Homo sapiens: one gene and its partner. The protein of the gene in region 2 interacts with the protein of the main gene of each other region in a pairwise test. Each region holds a gene or a part of one and is shown on either strand. Other genes may lie near its edges.

Region 1 (7,812 bases), on a different chromosome or scaffold from region 2:
CTTGGAACTCAGGGAACTGGCATAAAAATGCTGATATTCTGCTGCTGCTATTGCTATAAGTAATAAATTGTCCTTCATCTGTGACCTAGCTGCTTGGAGGCTTCTACCAATAATATGGTTTGGCTGTGTCCCCACTGAAAATCTCATCTTGAATTGTAATCCCTATGTGTCAAGGGTGGAACCAGGTGGAGGTAACTGGATCATGGGGGCAGTTTCTCCCATGCTGTTCTTGTGATAGTGAGTGAGTCTCACATGATCTGATGGTTTTATAAGTGGCATTTCCCCTGTTGGCACTCACTCCGTCCTACCATCTTGTAAAGAAGGTCCCTGCTTCTCATTTGCCTTCCACCATGATTGTAAGTCTCCTGGAGCCTCCCTAGCAATGCAGAACTGTGAGTCAATTAAACCTCTTTCCTTTATATTACCCAGTCTTGGGTATTTCTTTATAGCAGCATGAGAACAGACTAATACAACCAACATTCATAAAACTGTGGCAGGCAATTTGAATAAAATTGCAGCTATAAAGAACGATGTACAGTACATATTTACCTGTGGAAATTGGAAAGCATTTTTTCCTTTGCAGGGGCAGATATAAGGACAAAAATTACCTTACTTACTTTTGTAAGTTAGTTTATACAAAGTAGACATAGTACATTAGGCCAATGAGAATTTAAGTCTTGTAATTCTTATCTCTCAACATATGGTGTCACTCCTTCTCCACCAACAACTACTCACCCTTACTTGGTAAAGCTGGCACACCTGGGATTAGTTAGGCCTGAAAAATGGCTAAAAATACCTTTATCATAGAAGGATTTTAGAAAGTACTTTCTCAGTTGTTGCTTCTGGCATTACCAGGGCTGTCATGCATCCACAAAATTGCTGTTTGGTGCCACTGGTAGCTAATGTCCCCATTCAATAACATACAATAAACATATTCACTGTGCTATGAAAAAATCCACTACAGTCACCACTTCAAGTCTTAATGCCTGCTAATTTAGCAATTATAGTAATAGCAAAGCATTCCAAAGGTTTAAAAGAGCTCCAATTCTGGTTAAAATCAAAATTGATGAGCAAGAGCTTGATATAAAAGGTATGAATCAAACTAATTTCAGAGTTGCCTTTGTAAGACAGATGGGTGAATTTTATCTTTTATTATTTGGTATTCATCAGCCACCTACTGTCAATTTAAACTCTAATTACAGCTCTCTAAAATTATTTTTCTTGGGGGAAGTGGGCTATTAAGATTTTTGTTGGGGTAGAATGGGAAAGGATAAATTTCTTATGTTATATACTCCTACCTTTCCTTTAATACCGAAACAGGCCATCCCACGAGTATAAAAGCATTTAGACTGGGTAGGAGAAGAAAAAATGATAGAGAAAGAAGAAAAGCATAGTGATAACATAAAAATCAAAAGTTGACCTTACAGCTTACTTTATATAAATTATTATTATTATTATTTTGAGACAAAGTCTCACTCTGTTGCCTAGGCTGGAGTGCAGTGACGTGATCTCGGCTCACTGCAACCTCCGCCTCCCTGGTTCAAGGGATTCTCCTGCCTCAGCCTCCTGAGTAGTTGGGATTACCGGCGCCTGCCACCACGACTGGCTAATTTTTGTATTTTTAGTAGAAACGGGGTTTCACCATGTTGGTCAGGCTGGTCTCAAACTCCTGACCTCAAGTGATCTGCCCACCTCAGCCTCCCAAAGTGCTTGGGATTACAGGCGTGAGCCAGCACGCTCCACCTTACTTCATATAAATTAAAAGGTAGAAGGAAAAGTAACCCACATATGTGGGTTAGCTGTACCATTCTGAAGCAAGAGGATAGTTTAGTAGCTAGATATAAATGACTAAATATTTCACTTTGGAAAGGCCACTGGTTGTTTTTTTCAAAGTCAGGAGAATATTTCATCCTGAAGAAGCAGTTGTTGAAAGAGTGTTAAGGGTTACAGCACTCAGTAAGGAAACCAAAGGTTGTAAATGTCTGGAACACAGCAGGTTAAAGAAGTGTGGTGCAGAAAGGGCTGCTACTCAACTTCTTTGCCTGAGGCCTGCCTATATTAGCTAACCTGAGGAAGTCACAGGCAGTGTTATCACAACCAGTAATCTTTCTTCCCTGAAGCAAGGAGGGACAGTGGGCCAAAAAATCTTCTCAATTGCAGAAAAGCTGTTTGAGTCTTTGGGTCTGTTATCTGTCCCTACTGTTTATCTCAATTCTCTTAGCTCTCTAAACTCTGTTAGATATTTATCTTCCTTTTCTTCCTTGTTCATTTCCTATACATAAAAATGCAATAGCACAAGTGAATACAGATCAATGATTAGTTTTAAAATAAAAAAATTTTGCTTTGCATTAATTAATTAATTTTTTTTGAGACAGTCTCACTACATCACCCAAGTTGGAGTGCAGTGGCACAATCTCGGCTCACTGAAATTGCCACCCACTGGGTTCAGGTGATTCTCATGCCTCATCCCCCCAAGTAGCTGGAATTACAGGTTACCACTCCTGGCTAATTTTTGTATTTTTAGTAGAAATGGGTTTTCACCATGTTGGTTGGGCTGGTCTCAAACTTCTGACCTCAGATGATCTGCCTGCCTTAGCCTCCCAAAGTGTGGGATTACAGGTGTGAGCCACTACACCAGGCCTTGCCTTGCATTTAGATAAATTAAGTAGGATAGTAGACAGAGTACAGGGAGAAGATGATGAGACTCAGGATTGCCACTTTCAAGTTACGCAGCCTTGAACAAATGTACACCTCTGAACTTCAATTTTTCCCCAACTATAAATGTAGATAATAATTTTGACTGCCATGAAGATTAAATGATGGTTCACAACCTCGACAGCCCTACATATATGGAAGATATTGCGACTGAAGGTGACATTGTTTCAACTGAATACATATTCTAAGTGAACACATTAGTTTTTTAACTTTTAAAATTTTTAAAAATATGTAGATTTCAAATATTTTCTCCCAATTCTATCATTTATTTGTTAACTTTGTCTATAGTATTGTATGTAAAACCCCAAGCCTTTATTTTGCTGTAATGAATTTCTTCAATTTTTTTGACATGCAATTTGTACTTTTGAAATGTAACATAAGTTATTCCCCCATCCCTCAGTATTAAAATATTCTCCTCCACAATTTGCTATTAATTTCATATTTCAATCTTTCCAATCTAGGTCTTTAATGCATCTAGAGCTCTTCCTTTTAATGTAGTGTTTAATTTTCTCCAGATGGTTAGCCTATTTTCTTTTCCCCAATAATTTGTTGAACCACATTTTATTGTATATTAAGGTTACAAGTGATGTTGATATTGCTCATCCAGGAAGCACTGTTTGATTAGCAAGATTCTAAACAATGTGAGTTAGCACCTAGTTGAAAGAATTGATAATAATGGATGAGGGTGAATTTAGAACATGAGGGTAATATGTTGTATTATTAAAAATATCAATCCAGAAGGAAATAAAAATCATCCTTATTGAAAGTTTTCAGATGACAAAATGGGGATGGTCTTAGTAACCTGAAAAATACACATATAGAAATTACTCTTATACAGCACCAGTTCACAGACACGCCTGTAAATTCCCTGAGTTAAATATCTATAATATAGAAACAAACTTTGATTAGGTGATGCTGAAAGTTTAAGTACCTAAAAATACCTATCACCCTGCAGCTATTGAACAGTGCCTCCAAGTCCTGCTTTAAAAAATGATTTTATTGGCCAGGCGCGGTGGCTCATGCCTATAACCTAGCACTTTTGGAGGCTGATGTGGGCGGATCACCTGAGGTCAGAGTTCGAGACCAGCCTGGCCAGCATGGCGAAACCCCGTCTCTACTAAAAAATGCAAAAATTACTCGGGCGTGGTGGTGCACACCTGTAATCCCAGCTACTCAGGAGGCTGAGGCAGGAGAATTGCTTGAACCCAGGAGGTGGAGGTTGCAGTCAGCCAAGATCGTGCCACTTCACTCCAGCCTGGGCGACAGAGCAAGACCCTATCTCCAAAAAATAAAATAAAATAAAATAAAAAAGAGTTTATTGCCTGTTTCCAACAATACTCTGCAGGAAAAAAATCCAATGATTATATCCATTTCATTGCGAATAAGACGGGCACCAGTTTATCTATGTACCTGAGGAAATGCTATGGAAATGGTATTTTTCAATTTTATTCATCAGTATATTAACGAATATATGACTGAATAATTCATACTGAATTCAGATCAGTTGGAGGGGGGCTATAAATGCAAATTAGCTGAGGATTTAATGTGCGTAGGAGGTGTATAGGGGGTTATAGGACCTTTTAAATTCCCCCAATAGTTGTGGACTCGGTGGTTCTATGTCTTGCTATTCATTTTTAAATAGGTCAATGAAAGAGAGGAAAGGCCTGCAGTGTGTGGGGATCAGGAAGAAGGCGGATAAAAGAAAAGGGGGAAACTAGTCTGTTATTCAAGGGAACTGGCTTTCACTTATGGTTTCTCCTGTTTGGCTTGAACAAATCATTTCACCATCTTGGGCTTCCGTTTCGATATTGGGTGGGGAGGAGCGGGTGTTACGAGATCTCTCAGTTGTCTTGCTGCTTTCTTTCTTCGTGAGCCCTCCCCAAGTTGATTTAACAAATACTCTATGACCTAGAGTCCTAGAGTGTAAATACCACAGTCCAGGTGAGCGTTCAGCGGGCCTCCTTGCGCATGCGCTGAAGGGGGCACCCTCTCGTTAAGGCCCGAATTTTGCCTCTTCTGCGCACGCGCTCCTTTTAAATTCCCCACCTGTCAGAGAGAAGCAGGACTTCCTGTACTTTTTAGAGCGACTGCCGGAAGTGACTGCGGACGAATCGGCGTTTGCCGAGGCTGGCATAGATTTGGCTGTCTCCGCTCATAGCTGCTTTTGGCGCGAAAGATGCCGGGTCTGGTTGACTCAAACCCTGCCCCGCCTGAGTCTCAGGAGAAGAAGCCGCTGAAGCCCTGCTGCGCTTGCCCGGAGACCAAGAAGGCGCGCGATGCGTGGTCAGTGCGCAGCCGGAGAGGGCGCGGCCGACGAGCCCCGGGCCGCGGCCTGTGCCTTCCGGTGCCTCTGCCCTACGGCCTCTGCCCTCTGCCTTCTGCCCTCTGCCCTCTGCCTTCTGCCCTCTGCCCTCTTCCTTCCCCCCTTCCCCCACTCCTCCTCCCTGTCTGCCCCCCCCCCCCGCCCCGCCCCGCCCCGCCCCATTGCGGCGCTCTGGAGATAATTATTGGGCCTTGTAGGTTTCGTGGTCGGGTCTCTGTTGACTTATCCCGTAGCTTAGTACCGGGAAACGATGGAGAGAGAGGAGAACGGCAAGCTTCAACCACTCATTCCTTCCTACAAATGTGTGTTGAGTATCTGTTATGGGTTAAGCACTGCGTTAGGTCCGAAGATGTAGACATGGATAAAGATGCATCTTGATATAAAGGAGCTTAAAGTTAATGGAGACATAAACCAGTGACTTGTATACGACGTGGTAAGGGCTATGATAGATTTGTTAAGACCAAACAGGAAAGGTTTTCTGGTAATTTCTAAGGCTTTCTCCCAAAATTTAGAGACAGTAGGACACAGAGTGTATTCCTTACAGTTCTGAAGAGTTACGCTTCAACCCTTTTAAGACAACCAAAAGTTGAAAATCAATCAGTCTACGACGCAGGGGACAAAGTATTAAGAATAGTTCATCTAGATTGTCAATCCACAAAAGATTTGTTCTCATTTTATATAGCCTCTCTTGTGGAGCAAATCTCATTAGAGGACGTCCTCAGATAACGTGAATGTGCATCTCTTCCTCTGGCCCCTTTTGTCTTCCCAGATAGTAGATATAAGAAAGAAATCATTAGTGGTATAATGGGATAATAAGAGTGTAGGAGCTCAGTGCTTTTATTAATCCTCAGTACTTTGTAAATAATACGGGTAGGATTGAAAGACTAGTCTGAACAAATTGTTCCAGTGGTAACAGTAAGTGCTGTTGAACCTTGAATGGTATGACAGCATGATTAAGAGTCTGGGATCCACAGTCAAGGTTTGAATCTTAATCCACTAACTTGGTGACCTTGAGCCTCATGTGTCTGTAAAATGACTCTAATAAAAGAAACTCCCTCCAGTATTATTGTAAAGGTTAATGATACAAGCCATGTCAAGTGGCTAACACAGTATACATGGCAATAAATGATCAATGAATGCTAGCTATTATCTTCACAATGATCTCACTATCCCAGGCAATCTCCCATTTGCAGGCAGCTCTTGAGCTATTGAAGGATGGGTAGAGTTTCCATGGAAGGAGAACCTATTCCCTTTGTTAAATTCCCTTTGCCTCGATTGCCTCAGACCACGTGGGTTCTCCCCAAATATCCATAGTCAGGAGTCAGTTTTTCCTTGTAATTGAATTGGGCTTAACTTGATTATTTGCAAAATCACATTTTCAGGCCTTAGAAATAAAGCTGTGTAGTCCTAGTCTTTACTTTGTGAATTTTACAAGTAAAATATTCTTTGATCATCATGAGGGGGTGTTTATCTCGGTCTCCTGGCTACCAGATGTTTTTGATGTAATTAGAAGTAGATTTATTTGGTTGTGTTTGAATGTAGGGCAAAATCAGAAAGTTAATTTCTCTGTGATAATAAGCAAAAAATTGAGCTGTTCTCTGTGCCCTTCATTTAGCATAAATATTTTACTCAGTTTATTTCTTTATAGAGCAGTGTTACTCCTTGGATATTGACTAGAGGCAATATTTAATATGCGTGATTATTTCTTATCAGATTTCCCCCCCAAAATCACTTATCTGTGGAATGTCTTCATAGGCATGGGCATATCATAAGATCAAATAAAAACAAAGCTGTTTGAGGTAATAGCGTTTGTTTTAATTCCAGCTACATTCCATTATACCCGTGTTTTGTCTCACTCCCCATCACTATCATGCATACTTAATAATGTGCTTAATGCATATTTAGATAACAAGTACATTTTGTTTTATAGTATCATCGAGAAAGGAGAAGAACACTGTGGACATCTAATTGAGGCCCACAAGGAATGCATGAGAGCCCTAGGATTTAAAATATGAAATGGTAAGCTTCTTGCTTCAAAGTTGTGTATTGCTTTACAGATTTAGCAACAATTGGGCTACATTCTCTCTGAAAGGTAGTTCACCTGGTTAATCTAAAATGCTTAAGTATCAATTTGAAAAAACCATGATTTTTCAGTTCCCAATGAAGGGAGTAAATTATGTCAGTAAAGACAGTCATTTAGCGGATTGGGGAAGGGGAGAATTGAGCTTTTAAGAAAGGGTTTGACAAAAGCCTTTAGGTCCCATGGCTTTAGGAAAATTGACTGAGGGAACTAAAAGAAACATATTCTCTTTCTTGTTTCTAATAAATATTGTGGGACTTCAGTAAATGCTTTTTTTTTTTTTTTTTTGAGACAGGGTCTCACTCTGTTACCCAGGCTGGGGTGAAGTGGCCCAATCACAGCTCATTGCAGCCTCAACCTGGGAGGTTCAGGTGATCCTCCCCTCAGCCTCCTAAGTAACTGGGACTACAGGTGTGGGCCACCGTGCCTGGCTAATTTTTTGTGTTGTTTTTTAGAGATGGGGTTTCACCATCTTGCCCAGGCTGGTCTCAACCTCTTGGACTCAGGCAATCCTCCTGCCTTGGTCTCCCAAAGTGCTGGGATTAAGAGGTGTGAGCCACTATGCCTGGCCAAGAAATGCTTTTAAGTAGGGAGTGGGTATCCCACGGAAGTATTGCTTTCTGAAAAATGAAAATGGAATTGTAGCATGCTTTATTCGAATAAAACTAAAGCCTCAGGCCATTTTTTTTTTAAT
Region 2 (4,451 bases):
TTTAATTATTTTTCTGAATTCTTCATGGATAATGACATAGTAATTGTGATTCTTTTAATACCAGTTAAGCAGTATTTGGCAACTTAAACTTCCTGGGAGCCTAACTTTACTATGTTAAGTGAGTCAGGTGTGCTTTTTATTTCCCTTGTTTCTCATTTTGCCCTGTCAGTGGATGGTAGATGCTTTGTATATCTTAAATCCCTTAAAGGATCTTAAAGACATCCCTCAGGTGTTCTATTTAACTTTTATTTTATTTTATTTTATTTATTTATTTATTTTGAGACTGAGTCTTGCTCTGTCGCCCAGGCTGGAGTGCAGTGGCATGATCTCGGCTCACTGCAACTTCTGCCTCCCAGGTTCAAGCCATTCTCCTGCCTCGGCCTCCTGAGTAGCTGGGATTACAGTTGCCGCCACACCCGGCTTATTTTTTTGTATTTTTAGTAGAGGCAGAGTTTCACCATGTTGGCCAGGCTAGTCTCGAACTCCTGACCTCAGATGATCCGCCCACATTGGCCTCCCAAAGTGCTGGGATTACAGGTGTGATCCACCGCACCTGGCCCTAACTTTTAATATACAACACACACACACACACACACACACACACACACACACACACACACACACACACACACACTATTTCAGAAGACAGTGTGTTGCCTTACCCAGAATGAGTGCTAGGATTACAGGCGTGAGACAGACACACATACACACACATACACACACACAGAGTCTTTATTGCAGAAGACAGTGTGTTGCCTTATAGGCGTGAGACACACACACACACACACACACACACACACACACACACAGTCTTTATTGCAGAAGACAGTGTGTTGCCTTACCAGAATGAGTGCTTGGATTACAGGCGTGAGCCACTGTGCCCAGCCCTAACTTTTAATGTACATCACACACACACTCACACTCACATACACACACACACACACACTCTGACTGTCTTTATTGCAGAAGACAGTGTGTTGCCTTACCCAGAATGAGATTGAATTGTTTTGCTTCGTTTTGTTTTGTTATTCAGTGTTGCGGTAGCAGATGCATTATCAAAGGAAAAATATTTGGCTCCTTTAATTCCTCTGAAAACATGAGTATTTTGAGTTCTGCAGCACAATGACTGTAGGACTAAGCTAAGTCTGCTTTGCAGATATCTGATCAGATAGTCCCTTCATTCTGTAGACGTGTATTGGTTGGTCCAAGACACAGTGAGTAGGAGCTCTGTGGACCAAGACAAAGCTGGACTAGAGAGTACAGTTCAAACTTGGCAGTTTCTCTAACGACTCTGTATAGCTTCTGGCTTCTACTACTGAAACAAGAGTTTAGATCACTGATGGAGAGGCATAGTAATCTGTTTGTGCTTTGGAAAAATATATAAAAGTTTTTTTCCCCTATTTTTTGCACTTTAAATCTGTTTTGAAATTAGAACTGATATACATTTATTTGAATAATGTGTAACTATTATGGATCTATTTTAATGAACAATTTTTACCATTTCCCAAGCTGCCTGTTTATTATAAGCATGACATGTTTACTATAAACCTTTTGCCCCCATAATTTCTTTTTTTAAAGGAAATTAATATTAGTAAAATAAACACCTCTTTAATGGAAGCTGCAACCTTCTAGTGATCCAAGTAGACAATAGATGGTGGCATCACAGACTTTATCTACACACTTTCGGGTCTGACCACTACCTCCCACAATACCTAGCCATTTTGGAAGGGGAAAACATGCGGTGGTCTAGCTGTATAGCTCAGGGCTTAATTTCAGCTTCTGAGATTGTGATGTCATATTTCACTCTCAAAACATAGGCTGAAAGCACGAATTACTCAAAAAGTAAGCAAACCAATACCTGGTGAATCTATGGACAGTCATACACATACATCAGGGGAAAATGTGTGTGTACAACCCAAATTTACAGTATGATTGTCATTCTTTGACTTTGTTTTGTATAGCCTGACTCTGTTGAACATGAAATTATTAGTACTCTAGGTTTTGGACAGCTTGAGTTCATTTGAATTCCTTCCTTAGGAATAAGTTTTTATATACACTGCTAAATGTGTGATGAGAATCATAAAACACTAACCAGCTGAGGTAGCTGTGATTCACTTTCCCCCCACCCTAACTTGAGATAAAATGAAGGACTAGGCAAGTATTTCATGTTGTGTGAGTGGACTTCGGTTCCTTCAGTATTGTCTAGGTTATTGAGTCTTTCTTTGCCTAATAGTGGATTCCCACTCTTAAGATAACTTTTATTAGTGATAAATCAGTTTAGGGTATATTCTGTATGACAGGCATAAAATGTTAAGGGTGAATGCTGGCCTTTTCCAAGAAAAGGCCACCTTAACTTGTATGAGGAAAAAATCCTAACTATTCTCTTTTTTGTATCTTTTTTTCCGTAACTGTTTTGATTGTATATTTTAAAGAAACCACTTAATTTGTGATGCACGTAATATTTGTGTGAACCTGAGAATATGTCACAATAGGAAAAAGCAGAAATTATACTTAGGGGACATGTTAGGGGGGTAAAAATATTTAAGCCTCGAATGTTTTACTGTCATCTCCACTAACTATTTTTACAGAAAAAGCTAAAAACTCTGTTGTAATTATTGTAAGTTTACTTATTTATACTTTTAAATTAGGCTTTTCATACTTAAATTTTTTTGACATTTGCTTTTAATATTTGTTTCTTAATGTGGAAATTGTGTATTTTAATAATCAAATTATTAGGATAATAGATATATTTTTAAACATTCACCTCATTAACAAATAGATCTTTGAATTTTTATTAGGTTTTTTGGCTCCAGACAACTGTTTAGCTTTAATGATATTTCTAAATTCCCAGTGACTTATTAATAAAAACAGGAAAAATATTTAGGTAATGTCATAAAATTTATTTTACCTTTCTCATTTTCTGAGAAAATAAATGAAAAAAACCCTAGATATTGCTTTATTACCAACAGTGTGTAGGTTTTTGTACATATGGAAATTTGACACAAAAAAATAGGGAATTTGTATAGAGAAGTTTCCCTCTTATAAAAGGACTCCCATTTGATTGTTCGAAACTATAAAATGCACTTTTACTTTACCATATCTGAAATGACAAAATATCGCCCTTTGGAAAACCTGACTCTTTGCACGTGTAATTCCCAGAGTCTACCTCAGTTAACCAGGCTTAGTTTTAGGCAGGAATGAATTGAATTAAATTCAGTTCATCATCTATGCAGATTTGTTTCTTTTAAGCACATCCTTCCCTCCTGCTGTTGCCCTCCTCCCATTAACTTTTCTTTTTAATCTTGAAATTGTTTAAAATATTCCATCTTTCTTTCTCTAGCAAAGTGTTTGTATTCCAAATAAGGCCTCTGTGAAATGTCTGAATTACTTTTCCCGTCTTTGTTATGGTCAGCTTCATTATTTGGATGTATTGCATTCAAAGCAGCAGTTCCAAACATAACACACATCTATTTTCTTAGAGTTTTGTAAATACAAACTAACCTGATGACATTAAAAATTGTGGATCCTACATGTTCCTATGTTCATTCTCTAAAAACCTGAGTAACTTTATGAAAACACACAAACCTGGAAAAACATCACATTTTTGTCACATTTTTACTGACAAATGTATATTCATATGATGGTACGGCAGCAGGGAGTGGCCCCCAGTTAACATGGCTGTGAGTGGACACAGTGTCTCGCAGGATCACTGCATGTTATGATGGCTTGTAAGTGCGTTGTTAAGACTTTTGTTTCAGTGTTTGTCTCCCAGTATTTGAACCTAATTTAAAGAAAAAGACGTTTCCAAGTTGTATTTATTAAATGTGTTTTTCCTTACCTTTTGTGCTGCTACTTTGCTAATCTCATTAGCTTAGCTGTGTTTGTGCATAGGTTATATTTGGTAATAAATTTATAGAGTGTTGGTTGTCATCGCTTTCTTTGTGGTTCATTTTGACCTATAGTCACGGGTGCACTTCTTGCCACCAGTGGGAGCAACAAACCCCTCACTAGTAAGGGATGGCTTTCCCCAGATTTTTGTTCTCATAAAATCACATATTATAAACCTGACATTTTGTATTTGCTGTGCTTATGCCAATAATTTCAAGGTTGATGCAGGTAAGATGTGTGTTTTTTCAGTTAATTCCAACTGGCATAATCAATACACTTGTCTTATTTGTGTAGCACCATTGCAAAGTAGATGTTCCATATGGTGCATTTTCTAGATGACTAAGTCTTACTTTATGACCTCCTCCAAACAATTTTTTTAGTTAATAGACTTTATTTTTTTTAGAGCAGTTTTATGTTTACAGAAAAATTGAGCAGAAAATTTGGAGCTCCCATTTACTTACAACCCCCGCCCCAGTTTCTCCTCTTACTAACATCTTACATTAGTGTGGTATATTTGTTATAATTGATCAACTGATGTTGATGCATTATTATTCAGTAATTGA

The links.
Region 1: the proteins of KATNAL1 (region 2) and COX17 interact in binary tests that used the Homo sapiens proteins (3 or more experiments, as listed by UniProt).

What each region holds. Positions count from the first base shown.
Region 1 is NC_000003.12:119,674,390-119,682,201, reverse strand, and holds the start of COX17 (cytochrome c oxidase copper chaperone), read left to right. Parts: upstream 1-4,795; 5' UTR 4,796-4,891; coding exon 4,892-4,998; intron 4,999-5,198; exon of another isoform or gene 5,199-5,235; coding exon of another isoform or gene 5,236-5,340; intron 5,341-6,968; coding exon 6,969-7,053; 3' UTR 7,054-7,057; intron 7,058-7,413; exon of another isoform or gene 7,414-7,794; intron 7,795-7,812.
Region 2 is NC_000013.11:30,202,109-30,206,559, reverse strand, and holds the end of KATNAL1 (katanin p60 ATPase-containing subunit A-like 1), read left to right. Parts: 3' UTR 1-3,930; downstream 3,931-4,451. UniProt on the Homo sapiens protein: Regulates microtubule dynamics in Sertoli cells, a process that is essential for spermiogenesis and male fertility. Severs microtubules in an ATP-dependent manner, promoting rapid reorganization of cellular microtubule arrays.